3 linked regions of the Homo sapiens genome follow. Each later gene encodes a partner of the first gene's protein in a complex. Each region holds a gene or a part of one and is shown on either strand. Other genes may lie near its edges.

Region 1 (7,036 bases):
TACAATAAATTATTAACTGTAATTTCCCTACTGTAATACTGACTACTAGAACTTATTCCTTCTAACTATATTTTTGTACTCCTTAACCAACTTCTCTTCATCCCTTCCTCTAAGATCTTAAGATGTTCTATTCTTAAATTCTTAACTTTGATTCATATCTAGAAATGGTACTACATCTTTAATAAATCTTAAATCTTTTTTTTTTTCCAGGGAGGGAACACTGATATTTCTCTAATAATGCACATATGTTTACAACTACCATCACAAATGACTGACAACTTAGGTGACCAGATTCCTCAGGCTACAATTTTTCTCTTAGTGCTCTAAATATTTCTCCATTGTCTTTTGGATTTAGTGTTTTTACAGAGAAGTCTCAAATGTACTATATGTTTTTGTGTTTAGGTGTCTGCAATATTTGACTCTTAAGATACAAACAAAAGAATTTTCTAGATATAGTTCTCATCTCATAAATTTTGCCTGGAATGCAGGATGACTCATCTCTTCAGAAATCTCAGCAAGGTTTCTTCATCATGCTCATTATTGTTTCTGCTCCACTAGTACTGTCCCGGGATACTTATTTGTGGGTCAAATATCTTTCTATGTCCTCATCATTTATTTCTTTCATTTTAGTTTTGGTCATTTCTTCCCACCTCGAATTTGTCTCCCACTTCACTGATTAGATTTTTCCGTAGTGTCAATTCCATCATTTTAGGCCTGAGATATAGTTTTAAGGAAGCAACTGAAGAACATGAACTTTAAAATTGCAGAGACTGTGGTCTTAAATCCCACTTATCCTATTTTAGACTAAATGACCTAAGGAAATCACCTAACATGTCTGTTTGTCTGTTTATAAAATTTCTCATGTGCAAAAAAAGAATCCCAATATCTATCTTGCATGATTAACATGAGATTTAGAAATAATATTTGTAAAACTCTTATTATTGTGCCTTATATATAACTGGAATATAAGATGAACCTGCCATTATTATGAATCCCTATTTTGACTTTTTTCCTCGCTTAATTTTATTTCAGACTGCTCCATTTCTCATCTCAGCCTGTTCTGTACATAGGACTCCCTGTTCTTCTTTCAAGAAGAAGTCCTATCTTTTCAAATTTCATTAAAATAGATAATATTGGGTTGTGGTTAAGGCAGTGGATTCTGCACTTCCACTCAGTGTTTGAATCCTGGTTCTACCATTTACTATGTAACTTTCAGCAAGTTACTTAACTTCTGATGTAGTTTTCTCCTGTACAGAAATAAAACCCTGTAATTTCGTCGTTTGTATTAAACGACTAAATATATATAAAGTGTTTAGAAGAGTGCCTAAAGATAGAAAGCATTAAGGCATCTAGCAAATGAAAGCAGCTATTCCTCTTTTACTTCCTCAAGTTAATCATGTCAAAAATATTTTGTTCTCCTCTAAGTCCTTTAGAAATATTCCTGTTCTTTTGAGCTGCGAAATATCTTCCCAAATATTTGTTCCTAGTGTACTTATTTCTGAAAGAAAAGAAGCCTATTCAGTCCTGGTGTTTGCAAAGAGAGGCTGGATAAATTATGCTTAGTCACCTCACACTTATGTGCCCCTCAACATTTAAACTGGACCTTAGGTAAATGGACATAGCCTCTGCCTATTCTGATTATCCATTTAATTTAAACCTTGGTCTAAATTGCATTTTGTTCATGGCTCACAACTCCCAGTTCTTTAATACTAAGAGACAATATGAGGTTCTTCTCTGAGCATAAAACATCTCTGCAGACAACTGTTTCCAGGGTTCTTTTTGCTTTTGCCCAACATAAACCACTCCATCTGAGGGGAGCGCATATATCAATAAGCAATGTTTCATCCTCCATGTCACTATTCCCTACCATATTGTGCACTAGTACCACCAGAAAAAGCACATGCTATTTCAGAGCAGCAATCACTATGGGAGTGCTAATCTGTCCATTCTGTCAGTAGTTCGAAATTTTTGTGCAGTCGTACACCAGTGTATACACTATGAACCCTCACATATGTGCAGCTGGATTTTGGTCAATTTTACTACTTGTTTTTGCCTCACTTCAGAATTTATATTGTTACATTGACATCTGCCAGACAGAATACTAAAATGAACAGGTCTTAAGAAAAAATGGGGTAAATCTTACTACAAGCAAAATGTAGGATTATAACTCATTATAAAACTCCTGCCAAAAAAAAAAAAAAAACTATGTACCATTTACACAAGAGCCTGTTTATTTTTTTCTGTGAGGACAGAAGAGATAATGGTCAAAGTAGTAAAAAGTGCAACTCAAGTAGGGAGATAGGTATAAAGAGGGCATAGAGCATTAACTGTGGATGCCAATACAGACTCTTTATGATTCCAAGGGGATCAGGTTGTAGTTAGTTGCTGATTTGCTTAGTCTTTGAGCACTGTATTTTTAATTCCTTCAAGTGTGCTGCCAAAGATTCTATCATTTGAAAGTGTGCCTCAAACATAAAAGGATAATTATTACCATACGGCCATTGATTTCTCCTGGTTCTGTTGGGTAGAATCACACAGAAATAGTTTAAATAAGCACAAGCTATTCAATATCTGAAGTTAAGATACTACTTCCTAAGTTCTTCACAATTCTGGGTTAAAAATATTTTCTTCAAAAATGTTATCATGGCTAGTTTTGAGTTTCCCCACTATCTCTGGTCATTTTCCCCACTGTGTGTGTGTTCTTCCTGTAGGACAGCACTCAAGAATGAAGTCAATATTCTCACAGTGATGTTGATTCTAATATAAACTTTATTTTTACCACATGTTATTGACCATGACATAGTGTTACTGTTTTTAATTTTCAAAATTCCTTAGAATTTTAACATAAAATGCAGCCATATCTGCATTTTATGCGCATATGTAAATCACTATTACCCAATGATCATTTACTTACTGAGATGTTTTCTTCAGACCTGACAAGTTTTTTCTTCAGTTTTTTCTTTTCACGCATTAGATCACTGTGGGTCTTAAGCAATTCTTCAAAGCGAACTTTGGTTTTTACTTTTGCTTCACTCTCAGCTACAAAAGATACAGCCATGTGATTTTGTAAATGACTCTATCATAACACACAACCTACACTACTAGGATGTTAAGAAATAAGTTCTTGTAAATATCGGCATGAGTTCTCTAGCTACATTAGAAAAACTCACCTATCTTTCCTTCTTAAAATATTTTTTATTTTGACTTTAGTGACACAACATTCACCTGTATCCCTCTGACCTTTTTGGCCACTCACTCTAAAAGTCTCCTTTGCTAAGTTAACTTTTTATTTCTGATAAACAGTAGCATCTACCACTGTTAGTTACGTGTTATGTGGCTTTAGACAAGTTACTCAAGATCTCTAAACTTCATTTTCCTTATCTGTAAAATCACAATTATCTTATGCCAAAGATCATTTTGCATGAAAAATGGCTAAGGTGTGCCTAGCCTGTAATCAGTATTCCACAAATATTAACAGGTTTTTCCTTTAAAACATGAAGAAGATAATGCTTAAGCCCCTGAAAATTTCCCAATACATTTAGGATAAAATAAGTCTTTTATATGCCCTACAGGGCTCCATACCTCCTGATCTATCTCCAGGGCTTCAAATCAAGACAAATATCCCCTTAGATGCCTATGTTCTAGCTATAATACCCTTCCTTTAGCTCCTCCGTCACAGCAAGCTCCTTCCCACATGAAGCTGTTTCTGAGGCAAGCTTCCTCTAATTCCTCACCTGGCTGGTGTTAACCTGTCTGTTTAAATGCTGCCTGTAAATAAAACACCTCCTGACAAACTCATCTAATTTTCCCTTTTCTCACATAGCAGGTTGTTCTCTTCCTTCACAGCACTCAACCCAAATGGAAATTATATAATTATTTTTATATCTATATAAAGAAACATATTTTCTGTTTCCCCCATAACTACATCCCCAGCTACTATTATGAGGTCTGACATAGTGTACATAGTCATTATGTTTTAAATTAATAAATGCTGAATGAATGGGTGCTCTAGAGCAAGTGTCGGCAAACTATGGCCTGCAGGCTAGTCACTTGTTTTTGTAAAGATTTATTGAAATCAGACATACCCATTTGATTAAGAATTGTTATAACTGCTTTCATGCTTTAAAAGAGACAGAGAGACAGAGTTGAGCAGTTATAGCAGAGACTAAGCCTAAAATATTTACTAGCTAGCCCTTTTAGAAAAGATTGCCAATGCTTGTGGTGGAGTAAAACATTCAATTTTGATGATAAAGAATAAAAACTAACCCTATGTTGTAATCATTATTTACCTTGTCCATCTGAGTCCCAAACTACCATCCATTAAATACATACTAACCTTAATCACAATATTAAATAGAAAACTGAATACAAAACCAATAAGTATCTCTAAATGTAGTATATTTGGTCAATGACATCTACTGTATTCATTAATCTGTTCAAGAATCCCTTAAAATAAACCAAACTTAAAAGTAAATGTATAAAATATAAATTTTATACATAAATTTCATAGAAGTCTTACCTGTAGGCATCTCTCAGCTTTATGCAGAGGACTGAGAATGCAAAGCATTGACTCAATCAGGATCCTATCGAAACAAAGGAGATGTATTTGTAATATGGAACTTCCAAATAAAAATTATAAAACGTTCTTCACACAAGATCATGCCATTGTATGTCCACTACTTCATTAAGTTTATACCAATAAAGCTATGTTCCCTTAACCCAATCTTATGCAAATGACTTGGGTACATTTGAATCAGTTTAGGGCTCTAAAATCAAGGGAAACAAACTAGATCATATCTGAATAAAGTATTTATATATTTGAAACAAAAAAAACATTTTGAAGGCAGTGCACATCTAATGTGGTATGTTAATAAACTTTTTAAAGTGTTTTAATACATTAATGAACATTTCAACGCACTTTTAAGAAACCAAACTCCATCTCAGGATTGACTTTCCTAAGAGCATTCAATATTACATTAAAGCATGCTTGTGGGTAGCACACTCACAGTGAATTTAAATACCTCTGTGTCTGCCACTGAAAATTCTGCTACAATAGAGAAGGATAGTACAAATATTTGCACCATCTTTCTTTAATAAAACCTGGATGTGTATTACTGTGTCAGAACTACTCAAAACCATGGTTCAACTCAGTATGTATATTACTAAATTGCCCATTTTATTAAAAAAATCGGTGTATGTCTAAAATGAACATATTCTCACATTAGAACATTTAGAATGTAATATGCATGTTTTTGAGACTAAAACTGAAGAGTGTTAAAAAAAAAGCTGGTTCAGGAATTATTGATTTGTTTGTTTTTGAGATGGAGTCTCCCTTTGTCGAGTGCAGTGGTGTGATCTCGGCTCACTGCAACCTCCGCCTCCCAGGTTCAAGCGATTCTCCTGCCTCAGCCTCCCGAGTGGCTGGGATTACAGGTGTGCGCCACCACACCCAGCTAATTTTTGTATTTTTAGTAGAGACAGGGTTTCATCATGTTGGCCAGGCTGGTCTTGAACTCCTGACCTCATATGATCTGCCCGACTCAGCCTCCCAAAGTGTTGGGATTACAGGCGTGAGCCACCACACTGGGCCCAAGGCATTATTGGTTAATGCTCCAATTCCCTGGACATCCACATTCATGTTCCTCTTGCAGAAATGTCTAAGAAATTCTAAAAAGAAAGGAATGATTATGTAAACATACCTAACTATGTCAGTTAACTTAGGCAACAACTACGTGGCACCCAGTCAAAACAGACATCACTAAATCCATGGAGTAAAAATTCCTATACTTTAGTGATAGGAGCCTGTATTTACTCCTTCTAGCAGTTATAAATTTAATAAATCTAGTCTTCTACTTTCTAGTCTATATTAAATTAGAAAAGAGAAGCTGCAAAGGCAAGTGCAATGACAGCATGAGTAATTGAAACCTGAGAGCACGGAAGTAGAAAAATCATAAAACAAATAAAAATTTAATATTTATACTACTCGATGGTCATCTAATAGGCCAGGAAAAAGCTGACCTATATTATGACTATGATTCATCAAAAAAAAGCCTGCTGGGCGCCGTGGCTCATGTCTGTAATCCCAATACTTGGGAAGGATAAGGCGGGTGGATCACTTGAGGTCAGGAGTTTGTGTCCTGTCTGGCCAACATGGTAAAACCCCATCTCTACCAAAAATACAAAACTTAGTCAGGCGTGGTGGTGGGTGCCTGTAATCCCAGCTACTGGGGAGGCTGAGGCAGGAAAATCGCTTGAACCTGAAATGTGGAGGTTGCAGGGAGCCAAGACTGCACCAGTGCGCTCCAGGTGATGGAGTGAGGTAATATTTTAGAAAGATTAAATAACTAATGAAGAGGCAGGAGAAAGAATCGGAGATAATTCCCATGTTTCTAGAACTAGAATAAGTAGATTAGTAGTATCATTACACTGTAATATAATGCAGTACAGGGCAGTAGTTTAAAATCCATGTCCTAGAATTAGTTTCCATAGTCACTTGCGTGACTTTTGTTTCCTCATCTATAAAAACACCCTACCAGTGCCGACTCAAAGGGTTGTTGTAAGGGTTAAATGATTTAGAACAGTACCGTAGACAGAAGAAGCAACAATAAATGTTAGCTATAACTGTAACAGGTTGTTAGGGTGCAGTCACTGAGCTTAGTATGGGTCATGTTGAGTTGGGTATCTGAAGGGCACTGAGCAGCTACAAGCATCAGCTCCATTTTCAGATCCTTGGATCCAAATACCAGTTCTATCTGCCAGCAGATTCACCTCTATGGATATCAACTTCCTAATCTTTCACAATAATAAGAGTAAATCACTCACAGTGTTTTTATAAAGATTAAATGAGAATATGCAAATAAAATACTAGGCACAATGCCTAGCACATGGCAAGCCCTTCAAAAACAACAACTGTTATTACTGTCACGTGTGTGTGTGTTTACGTATATAATCATATTATGTTTGTTAGGCAATCTACTAATCCAGCAGGGAGACAATAGGCTGAAGATTTGGGAGTTATTTATAAATATGATAGTTC
Region 2 (4,351 bases), on another chromosome or scaffold:
CTTGGGAGCCTCTTAGGTATTAGGCTATGAATCAGCGCCACGTGCAAAGGCTTGGGAGCCAAGCCATGTGGTCTTGCACCCCAGGCAAGAAAAGTCAGCTGGAGGGTTTACAGCACTTTCTACTGTTTCCCAGCCCTCCCTCCCCTCCCTCACCATGACTAAGAGACCACTCGGTCCTAGCCTCCAGACACCCCACAATACTCCTCTGAGCCTGAGGCCAGGCAGCATGCTCTGCTTCTACCAATAAAGCACTGCTAAGGGCAGGGGCTGCTGTTTCTGTGTTGGGCTAGGGAAGACGTGGCCTCAGTTCCATGCTTTGCTCCAGATGTTTAAGAGAAGTGCTGTTAACACGCAAGCTGGCACAACCATCTAAGCCTCTCCTGGGGGCTGAATTAGGAGAGCCCAAAGAAACACTGTGGAGTAGGGAAAGGCAGAAAAGGGGAAGGGCAGACATGGTAGGGGCCCCGACATTAAGAACACCCTAGCCATACCAGCAACCTGAGCAGACAAACAGCCAACAGAACATCAGTCAAAATAAAAGGGGTTTATGTAACAAAAAACAAAAAAACAAACAAACAAAAAAACACAGTAAAAGATACCACCCAGCTAGCAGAAAGGACTCAGCACTGCCTTCAGCCTTCACTTACTCAGAAATAACTCATATCTCAACCTCAGCAAGCCCCAAGCAGTAGAATGAGGCTTCCCTGGAAAGAGGCTGAGACTCACAGGCTGGGGATTTAAGACCCTCTCACCGTCCACCTTCCTTCCTTCTTTGGTCTTGGAAGATGAAAGGCTCCATTTTTAAAGGGTGGAGAACAGCAGATCCCCTGCTACTGTGAGACAAGCCAGAAAAGTGAGTCAAGGCCAGACTCACTATGGGGTCACCCCAAACAGCTTCAGATCAAAAAGCCTGCCTTGCTGTGATGCCCATTGACAGTGGCTGCAAATATAAAGGGGGGGCCACAGGGTCTCTGGCTTTATTTCCACAGGGTAGGGAGAAGACCCTGCAGAAGGCTAGGCAGAGGGGCCAGCCGGGAATTTCCCAGCTTTTCTGGTTCTCAGCAGACCAACGTGGTCTCTAATCAGAAAGACGAAGAGGCAGGAGAGCACTGGCCTCAGATATCCCCCATCTTGTCCTCTTGCACTGTGGGCCAGGGCTGCTGTGAGCTAGGAGACCAGGGTTCCAGAGGGGCTCACTAGGTCCTGCGGGAGGCTTTCCCGGGCCTCCTGCATGCGGCGCCGGGCTCGACGGAAGGCCTCTGTAAGGAAAGGAGATATGCTATTTGGCTGCCATATGGTATTTCTCTCTGCACTGCAGAGAGAAACAGGCCCATGCTGACCTGGGGTGGCCAGCTGGGGGAGGGGACATACCTAGCACATTGTGAATGGAACTCTGCTGGCTGAACCCTTCCAGACGGTCCAACACACTCCGCATCCTTTTCTGAAGGGAGCTCGATTCCATGAAGGCCCTGCAGGGAGGCCAGCCACATGGTTACGGCTGTCTCCACCCCTCAGGGCTAAGGTGCCCTGAGGCAGAGGGCCAAGTCACTCACCTGGACTGCTGCAGACAGTGCAAGCGGAAGGTGACAGTGCCTGTGGTCTCTGTGCGGAGTCCAAAGCGGCTCAGGCGTTCCCCCTGTGGCATGCCATTGGGACAGCCTCAGGTTTCTGCTCTCTCTAGACACCCCCGCACCATGCTGGCCTCACCCCCATTCTTATTCCCATTCTTGGGAAGCGCAGTTCTGTTGGGGAAACCTTATTCCATCACCCAGACTCTATTACCTCAAGGCTAATACTGGGCTATTGGGCTCCCCCAACTAAACCAGGGAACATTCCAACCTCATTTGAGAAGCGGCGGTCTTATATGCTTACTGTGAATCCTCCCCACATCTGATTACTGAGGCCTTCAGTGATGGGGGAAAGAGCCAGTTATTCTGATGGGAACCAGGGGAAATCTCTAATTATACTATTTTCCAGAGACCTCCTACGATAGCAGTGTAGATATTGGAACCTGATTCAAAATGTGGTCATGACTTCCAGCTTAAGCCACAGGAAGGAAGGGGTTAATACTGAAGCAATGCACAACTAAGGGGTCTTGACCCAGATCCCACCTCCTACAGAAGGACAGGACCATAAGTTCTCAGCGTGAAGTCACTCCAAAGACAAAAGTCACCTTGAAGGATCCTGGTATCCGTACATAGGAGAGGTCCTCCAGTTCCAGAGAACCGCCAATGAAAAACCTCCTCAGCTCAGCCACCGTGCCAAGCTCCACAGGTCTCCACGTGGAGACTGTCAGGGTGTGTGAGCCTGCGCAAGGGAAGAGAAGACTGGGGCCAGGTCCAGAAAGGGCATGTGGCCCCTCACTGACTCCCCAGCAATGACACAGGCCTAGACTCAGCTAAAACACCTGGTCTGGTGATGACCTGGCCTCTGGTGCAGGTTATCATGGTTACCCATAGCACCTGTATGGAAATCAATCAGGGAGAAATTCAAATTTCCGCTCTGCCAGTTATTACCTGCATACCCAGGACAGGTTTCTTAACCTCTCTGAAGCTCATTCTCCTCATCTAGTAAAATGGAAATAATACCACCTGCACCTCACAGAGTGACTGGGAGAATTAAGTGAGAAGTATGGCACAATGCCTGGCACACAGTAAAAGACAGATGCTTTTATTCCAAACTGAATGCTGATTCATTCAATACACATATGCTATGAGCCAATTTTGCCATACAGCTTCTCACCCTGAGTCCAATCAGAGGAGCATGAAGCACATGGAGAGACTGTCAGGAAGTCAGTGCCAAGGCCACGTCATTGTCGCTAATGGAGGGGGGCAGAAAGTCCTCAGAGGAACAGGAACTCTTTCAAGCCAAACATTTCCAATTCCCAATTATCTCCACCCCTCACCAGAAGCATTCGAGTGTTAGTCTTGTTCTTAGGGCCTAGGGCATGTGGGCCACAGAAGGGCAGAGACGAGCGGTTACCTGGAGTGGCAGGCAGCACCACAGCCCCATAGCCTTCCACACGGTACCTCTGCCAGAAGTCCAGCGAGAGGACCTCACAGTAGAGCACAGGCCACTCCGGGAGTGCATCTGGGAGCAAGGAGAGAAGCGGCCAGGTCACAGGCGGCCTTCACCAAGAGACAGCACTGCTTGAGGGGAACCAAGGCCCAGGATCAACTGCTGAGCTACTCACCAGAAGATTCATCCTCATGGAGGAAGAAGGCTTCAAACGTGAATGGGTAGGAGAAGTGAGCCACCTTGTCCTATAAAAAGGAGTGTCATAGGGTGGGCAAGGCCTCCCTTGGAATCTGTTCTCCTTGTGGCCAATGACAAGGTTATCTTCACAAGGGAAAAAGAAAAATTATCACCCAGGTGGGAAATAGGAGTCTGAGATGCAAAAGGACACCCAAATACAAGCTGCTGCCATGCTCAAAAAGACAGACAGGATCTCCGGACCAGGTGGCCCTGTAGAACCCACACACAAGTCACCCAACTCTGGAATCCTCCCCAGGGCGCACAGCACTTGGCCTGATAAAACCTCAAATGCCATCCCAGGAGCAGATCTCATTCCCTTCCAGATACCCGCTCTCATTCTCCATACCATTGCCAGGGACTTGGTGGTGCAGGTCTGTGTTACTCCTGAGAGCTGCTGGAATGCTGGGCTTGACCAGTCTGAAAGCCAAAGACCAAATATAGTAAGCTCGCCTGGGAGGAAAGCAAGTCATTCAGAAAAAGACAGTTTCTTTTTTCTTTTCTTTTTTTTTTTTGTATTTATTGATCATTCTTGGGTGTTTCTCGGAGAGGGGGATGTGGCAGGGTCATAGGATAATAGTGGAGAGAAGGTCAGCAGATAAACACGTGAACAAAGGTCTCTGGTTCTCCTAGGCAGAGGTCCCTGCGGCCTTCCACAGTGTTTGTGTCCCTGGGTACTTGAGATTAGGGAGTGGTGATGACTCTTAAGGAGCATGCTGCCTTCAAGCACCTGTTTAACAAAGCACATCTTGCACCGCCCTTAATCCATTTAACCTTGAGTTGACACAGCACATGTTTCAGAGAGCACGGGGTTGGGGGTAAGGTTATAGATTAACAGCATCCCAAGGCAGAAGAATTTTTCTTAGTACAGAACAAAATGGAGTCTCCTATGTCTACTTCTTTCTACACAGACACAGTAACAATCTGATCTCTCTTTCTTTTCCCCACATTTCCCCCTTTTCTTTTTGACAAAACCGCCATCGTCATCATGGCCCATTCTCAATGGTCGCTGTCTCTTCGGAGCTGTTGGGTACACCTCCCAGATGGGGCGGCCGGGCAGAGGCGCTCCTCACTTCCCAGACGGGGCGGACAGTTTCTT
Region 3 (7,036 bases), on another chromosome or scaffold:
ACAGGTTGTAGAAGGTTTTTAACTACTGAGATCTAGGCGGGGCTTGATATTCAAAATGCTGAACAATACACAGTATTGAACCCACCTCCTGGGTTCATTAGAAGAGCTGCCCACCACAGCTTGGGAACAGGACCCTGGAGGCGCTGGCCTTGGTCAGCCACCCCCTTTAATTGGTCAATTGTGGTAAGGTCCAGGGGGTCCTTGAAGTGGGGCTTATGTGGCCAGGATGGCATCTGGGAAGGTCAGGGCAGCAGCTATTTATCAGTCAGTACAGAGTATGTAAATATTTTATTAATTATACAGCCATGATGGTACCTGCAGACTTTGTCAGTCATACTCACTAGGAATAGGTAGTGGCTACCTGAAGTACTGTATTGAGAAGAGTTCTAAAATTATATTCAGGCTCAGTGGGAAAACACAACAAAAATAGCACCATCAATTATTGCTTTCTGGCAAGGGTGGTGGAGGGGAGTGAGAAATTTCTGCCTAAGTGATGGATGAGGATCTGTGATTTCTGCCTGGGTGGTGGTGGGGAAACAAGGGCATGCATGCCACAAAGCTGCAATCCTAGTTAACAAGCCTGTTAGGATCATAAGAGAGACCTGTTAGCATTGTGGGAGAAGAGTCACCGAAAGAACAAGCAAGACTGAAGACACTGTAATGGGTTAAATAGCATCCTCCACATATTGATGTCCGCCCAGAAACTCAGAATGCGACCTAATTTGGAAATGGGGTCTTTGCAGATATCATTAGTTAAGGATGAAGATAAGATCATATTAGATTAGGGTGGGCCCTAAATCCAATAAGAGTGTTCTTATAAGCGACAAAAGAGGACCCACAGAGAGAGACACAGAGAAGGCTATGTGAAGATGGAAGCAGAGATTAGAGTTACGCTAACACAAACCAAGGAACTCTAAGTGCCAGGAGGAGCTGGAAGAGGCAGGGAAAGATACTCCTCTAGAGCTTTTGGAGGGAGTATGGCCCTACTGACGCCTTGATTTCAGACTTTAGGCCTCCAGAACTGTGAGTAAACACATTTCTGTTGTTTTGAAGCCACCAAGTTAGTGGTTCCTTGTTATAGTTTAGTTTCCCCAGGAAACTAAAATAGACTCAAATAAATATATTGCTAATGGTGGGATTTAGGCTAGTGAGGAGATTTATTAATTTTTGGGGGATCCTAGCACCTGTATCTTTCCCACATCATAACCTCCCATGATTGCGGCATAATTGATTTCTCTGTTATATTACACTAGAGTCCTTGTAGAGGGTGATGTTGAAATATGTCTTCAATGAATGAGCTGGAGATCTCCCTGTGCCCCACCCCCTTCAGCACCCCTCTCCCATCTCAAGGCAGACACTCCAGAGCACTGTGGCCAGAGTTATTCTGCCAGCATTTTCAGTAGGTGAGTTGGGGAACAGATCTCTTTCTTCCAAGACTTTAAGAACAGATGTGCCAAGGAAGAGGCTTGAGACTCTATCGAGACATATTTATAACCAATGGATGATTTAAAATCATCTCAAAGCTGTAATGAACAAAAAATTATTGGGGCAGTAACTATAATAATAATAATAATTATTATTACTATTGTTTTGAGACAGAGTCACACTCTGTCGCCTAGGCTGGAGTACAGTGGCATGATCTCAGCTCAATGCAACCTCCACCTCCTGGGTTCAAGAGATTCTCCTGCCTCAGCCTCCCGAGTAGCTGGGATTACAGGCACCCGCCAGCACACTTGGCTAATTTTTTTTTTTTGTATTTACAGTAGAGATGTGGTTTTGCCATGTTGGCCAGGCTGGTCTCGAACTCCTGGCCTTAAGTGATCTGCCCACCTTGGCCTCCCAAAGTACAGGCATGAGCCACAGTGCCCGGCCAGTAACTATAATTAAAATGTGTACCTGAAGTGTTAAACTCTCCGGCCAGTTGACTATTTGCAAATTGAAAATCTGCCCAAAGTGAACTCGGAAGTCTGCTCCTAGTGGCCGACTGACTGTCCTGGACACCTCCTTGTTGTTGAACAGCACTTTTAAGTACACTGAGCGCTTCTTTACATCCTCCCTTCTCGAGACCTCCGCTCTGCAAAAGGAGACCATTCACAGGTGGAGTTAGTAATAATTTACTAAGATCACCAAAATATATGATAAATAAGAACTGAACAGAACAAGACACACTGCAGGCAACTCTCCCAATCATGTCAGCCCTCATTTAACCAGAGGAGCCACAGGTCTTGCAGAGTAGTATGGAATTTATGGAGAAGCCATTAACAGACACTGAAAAGGGCACAGAGGATTTAAGAACTAGAGTCCATTCATTGTTGTGCTACAGTCTCCTCAGGTTTTTCAGGCAAGCTTTACATTTGTGTCCCAAAGTTTTAAATTCACATATTCCTTGTTAAATGGAATAAATTCAAGACAAAGGGGATAATAATGATTTATATTTGAGTAAGAAGTTTTATTCTAAAAATACAGCAGCATATTGTAGCAGTTAGATCGAGTTCATTTTTCCAAGATACCAAGTTTTTCTCAACATTTTCAGACAGTAAGTGAATGTTCAATGGATGCAGAGTATTAATAAATATTCCTTATTTTTAAAGATAATTTGAATCAGAAAGTTAAAAAAAAAAACAACCTCCCATTGGTCTTTAATTTTATTGTACATATGTGTATAGACATCCACCAAAAAATGCCAGTTATTGGTTAAGTCAATAGCAATTCAAGCTAATTGAGGAAAGGAAAAGGTTAGGGCATCAAAATTTGAAACAAGCTTAGGTTTTTTTTGGGGGAGGGGTGGTAGTTTATTAAAAATTGTTCCATTGTGGAAAATATATATAACATAACGTAATGTTTATCACTTTAACCATTTTTAAGTGTATGATTCAGTGGCATTACATACAATTACTATGTTGTCTAACCATCACCACTATCCACCTTCAGAGCTTCTTCATCATTCCAAACAGAAATTCTCTAGTAATTAAAGGGGGTGGTAGTTTTAACTTTTTACATGTCTATAATTTAGACTTATTCTAGATGAAATAGCTCAAATTACTTCAGCATTTTTTTAATAAAGGACACTTCACAGCAAATTTGCAAGAAGTATCCAAGACACTGAAGACTTAGACTCCACTCATAAAAGATTACCAAATCAAGCCCAAATTTTCCTTTTAGAAAGCATGCTGTGTCATCACATATTTTGAACATTCATGTCAAAATTAAAATTATAGGGTATGGTACTTGTGCCTTGAAAATTGCTTACTTAGTGCAGGGGAATAGTTTATGTATAATATCTTAATATGTGAAGTTGAGGGAACACATGAAAATGCACAAAAAGCTATAATTTTAAAATAAATCAATCATTAGAATAAATCAATCATTAGAACATTAGCAGAAGTTTGAAACCAAGACTGTGAGAAGTCTTATAATGACATCCTAATTAACTCCCACGTTTTAATGAACTCGGAGGCTGACTGACTTTATTTGAATTCTCATTTTTCACGTTGGGATATTGAAGATTCCAGTGTACAACAGTCCCTGTATTCATGATAGATCTTCTATTTACTGGAGAACTAAGCCTGGGATTTTGTGGTATCGATGATTTTAATGGACTCCCTTTAATTAATGATGATATACCATAACATGCATCAGAATCACTTGGAGACCTTGTGAGAACAGTTTTCTAGGCCCCACCTCAGGGTTTCAGGTTCAGTAAGTCTCAGGTAGAACTTGTGAGCTTGCATTTCTTTCTTTTTTAAAATTATTTTTTAAATTTCTGTTTAGTTGGTTGACTTTAATTATCTGGCTAGTTTTTATTAATCTTTCTTAAACATATTTATTTCAATGTGAGGTATTAAAAATGTTTGGGGTATTTATTTATTTATTCAATAGAGGTGAGGTCTCATTTTGTTCCCCAGGCTGGTCTCCAACTCCTGGCCTCAAGCGATCCTCCTGCCTCAGCCTCCCAAAGTGCTGAGGTTACAGGCATGAGCCACCATGCCTGGCCTGAGTTTATGTTTCTAACAAGTCCTCAGTGATGCTGATGCTGCTGATTCTGGGGCTATACTTTGAGAACCATGGCTATTCAGTGAAGGAAAGAATAAATAGGAAACATAAAAATATTTTTATTATGTTATAATTTTTAAAAAGATGAACTTACAAATGTATGTTTATGAATTATTATATGTACAAATGTATATAAATCAAATGATGTTTCTCTTAGGCATCAAGTGAGAATGACTAGACATGTATTTTTATCATATCTGGAGGGTGTGCTTCAGATGGCCTGACTTAAATACCACCCACAACTTTCTGGGGGGTCTTCAAGGAGAAAAGCTGATCCCTGGAGCAGCTGAAATCAAGGAAGGGGCAAGGAAAGGCATCCGTGCCTGTGCCAGAAAGGTGGGACATGCTACCAGTGGACTGAAGGACTCATTGAGGTTACAGATAAGGGACTCAAATCAAAAGCCACACAGACAGCCACTGTGAAGAGCAGGCAGAGATTTGCAACTGGGATGCTTCTCCTACAGGGAGCTTTCCAGTGTGCTCCTGAGTGGCCAGTGCAGATGCATGAGGTAGGTGAATCATATGAAATCACCTAAAGTGGGCAAATGTCAGCAATTTCATGTGGTTCAACCTAATATTCATTTAGAGTTAATGATACTCCTGATGCTCGTGTAGGTCAGTAAGTGTACACTCCCCATGTCGTGCATGTGTGTGTGCATGTGCCCACGTGAACATGTGTATCAGATGTCAGCCTCATTTACGGTCGGAGCATCCACTCACCTGGGGCACTGGTCATTGGGTGTTACGCTTCCTGCCAGGCTTAGCTCCGGGACCAGCGTGGGCTCCCAAGGCCTCCTCCTGCTCTGGGCTGCTCTCTCCCTCACCTCCTGCTCTATCACTGCCCGATCAGTGGGCTCTGGAGGGCTGGGCTTCACAAGGTCCTCCTCGGGATACGGCTCTGCAATCTCATCACCGGGATGTTCTTCTGCTGCTTGTTTCCTTTTCTTCTTCTTGGCCCTCTGTTGAGTTAGAGGCAACATGATATCAAACAGGAATTTTGGAATTTCATTTAAGAGCACAGTCTTCATAGCCAGATGGACCTGGATACAAACCCCAGCCCCATTTCAACCAGAAGTGTGTAATCAGGCAGGTCACTAAGCCACCTGACCTCTCTGTGCCTCAGTTTTTTCATCTACAGAATGGAGCCCAGGAAATTTCTCCCAGGGCTGTTGAAATGAGACTGTTGAAATGCCTAAAAAGCATTTGTCATACAGCCTAGTCCCTGGAAAGAGCTTAAAAAATGGTAGGTATTCATGTGATCATTAATTTTGGTTTTCAAGGCGAAGTACACATCTTGAAATATTAAAATAAGGCATGTAAGCACAGTGAGCATTGCAGGCCCACCTGATCTATTATTTGTTGCCCTTGGACTCAGTTTTGTAGGGTCATGTGCATAAAGTTATATAATTTTCTGAAGGAAACTCAGAAGCATCAATCCCTACATTTAATGGAATAATGCATGTAAGATACTCAGCACAGTGCTGGACACATGCATTAGTGATTACTACATTATTACTTAAATAGGCACAGAGTGCTACCATAGCATTCTCTGTGGACACAGCTGGCTCTGGTATCAGTCAGCTGGGTGGCTTTTTAAGCAAATGCATTAGCCAGTCAATTCATTCATCCTTTTATCCCTTAGCCAGGGGACGGGGAAGAGACAGAGGGAGCCACAGGATACCCTAGTCTGCCAGTCTGGTTTCCCCACTCCTGTACTGGAGGCTGCCCTCCCAGACACTTCCTGGCCAGCCCTATTCCAGGCTGAGTGTTTGTTTACACACTTGCACTTTCCTCCAGGCCTTCCACTGTTGTAACGACGTTCTGTATTCTTCCATCTTCTGTGCGTACTCCTCCGTGTGCTCTTCTAACAGTTCACTTATTTCAGCTTGAATTTCTGCTTCATATGCTTCTTCATCTGCTTTCTGGTCAGCTTTTTCCCTTTAAAATAATTTGTAGTCCCTTGGTTATTTCTGGAAATTAAGTAAGAGAGCAATAATAACAGCAAATACTTATATTGGACTTGCTATGTGCCAGTTCCTCTTCTAAAAATGTCGCACATGTAAACTCACAATCCTGTGAGGCAGATGCTATTATTATCCACATCGTATACATGAGATGACAGAGGCACATAGAAGTTAAGTAAGTTCCCAAGAACACACAGCTGGTGAGTGGAAGGGCTGAATATGAGCCCAACCCACTGAACACTGAGCAGCCATGCCTCTCTGTGTTAAATGATCTGTGTGGTGTGCTGACATGGGGCCTGTAAGTTCTCAGCTGATAGTGGTGGAAATTTCATTAGTTATTTTATGACTTCTTCAAGTCTCTGAGGAACTGCTTCATTTTGTTGCTACTGAGTCCCTGAAACCACTTTTTAAAAAATTTTAATTTTAATTTTTTAAAATTATACTTTAAGTTCTAGGGTACATGTGCACAACATGCAGGTTTGATACATAGGTATACATGTGCCATGTTGGTTTACTGCATGCATCAACCCATCATCTACATTAGGTATTTCTCCTAATGCTATCCCTCCCCCAACCCTCCCACCCCCGACAGGCCCTGGTGTGTGATGTTCCCCGCCCTGTGTCCACGTGTTCTCATTGTTCAATTCCCACCTGTGAGTGAGAACATGCGGTGTTTGGTTTTCTGTCCTTGTGATAGTTTGCTGAGAATGATGGTGAAACCACTTTTTTGACTTTGGATGGAGGATTTGGGTTTTTCTTTGATGATTTTGCTTATACTCCACCAGGAGATCAGCCCAGTTCAAACCACCGTTTCCCACAGTGTGTTCTGTAGGACATTAGTTCTGTGAGATGTACCACCAGGAAAAGATATTGTGGCCATATTAACACTGGATTAAATAAGTGTGAAAGGTTCCTTGCTGGTCATCTTTTCAGAGCCCTTAACATGTTGATGAACAGCATGGCTCTCCTGGTAGATGGCGGCAAATGTGTGGTGACTTCATCCATCCCACCCAGCACTT

What was found. The genes of interacting proteins can lie anywhere in the genome.
Region 2: AHI1 (region 1) and MKS1 share a complex: the UniProt entries of both Homo sapiens proteins name them as parts of the tectonic-like complex.
Region 3: AHI1 (region 1) and CC2D2A share a complex: the UniProt entries of both Homo sapiens proteins name them as parts of the tectonic-like complex.

Annotation. Positions count from the first base shown.
Region 1 is NC_000006.12:135,487,709-135,494,744, forward strand, and holds part of AHI1 (jouberin), read right to left. Parts: intron 4,584-7,036; 5' UTR 4,530-4,583; coding exon 4,520-4,529; intron 3,040-4,519; coding exon 2,915-3,039; intron 1-2,914. UniProt on the Homo sapiens protein: Involved in vesicle trafficking and required for ciliogenesis, formation of primary non-motile cilium, and recruitment of RAB8A to the basal body of primary cilium.
Region 2 is NC_000017.11:58,204,912-58,209,262, forward strand, and holds the end of MKS1 (tectonic-like complex member MKS1), read right to left. Parts: intron 3,673-4,351; coding exon 3,602-3,672; exon of another isoform or gene 3,597-3,601; intron 3,264-3,596; coding exon 3,194-3,263; intron 3,091-3,193; coding exon 2,983-3,090; intron 2,819-2,982; coding exon of another isoform or gene 2,793-2,818; exon of another isoform or gene 2,650-2,792; intron 2,308-2,649; coding exon 2,174-2,307; intron 1,637-2,173; coding exon 1,554-1,636; intron 1,470-1,553; coding exon 1,372-1,469; intron 1,260-1,371; coding exon 1,168-1,259; coding exon of another isoform or gene 1,079-1,167; 3' UTR 530-1,078; downstream 1-529. UniProt on the Homo sapiens protein: Component of the tectonic-like complex, a complex localized at the transition zone of primary cilia and acting as a barrier that prevents diffusion of transmembrane proteins between the cilia and plasma membranes.
Region 3 is NC_000004.12:15,535,875-15,542,910, reverse strand, and holds part of CC2D2A (coiled-coil and C2 domain-containing protein 2A), read right to left. Parts: intron 5,992-7,036; coding exon 5,835-5,991; intron 5,013-5,834; coding exon 4,774-5,012; intron 2,075-4,773; coding exon 1,897-2,074; intron 1-1,896. UniProt on the Homo sapiens protein: Component of the tectonic-like complex, a complex localized at the transition zone of primary cilia and acting as a barrier that prevents diffusion of transmembrane proteins between the cilia and plasma membranes.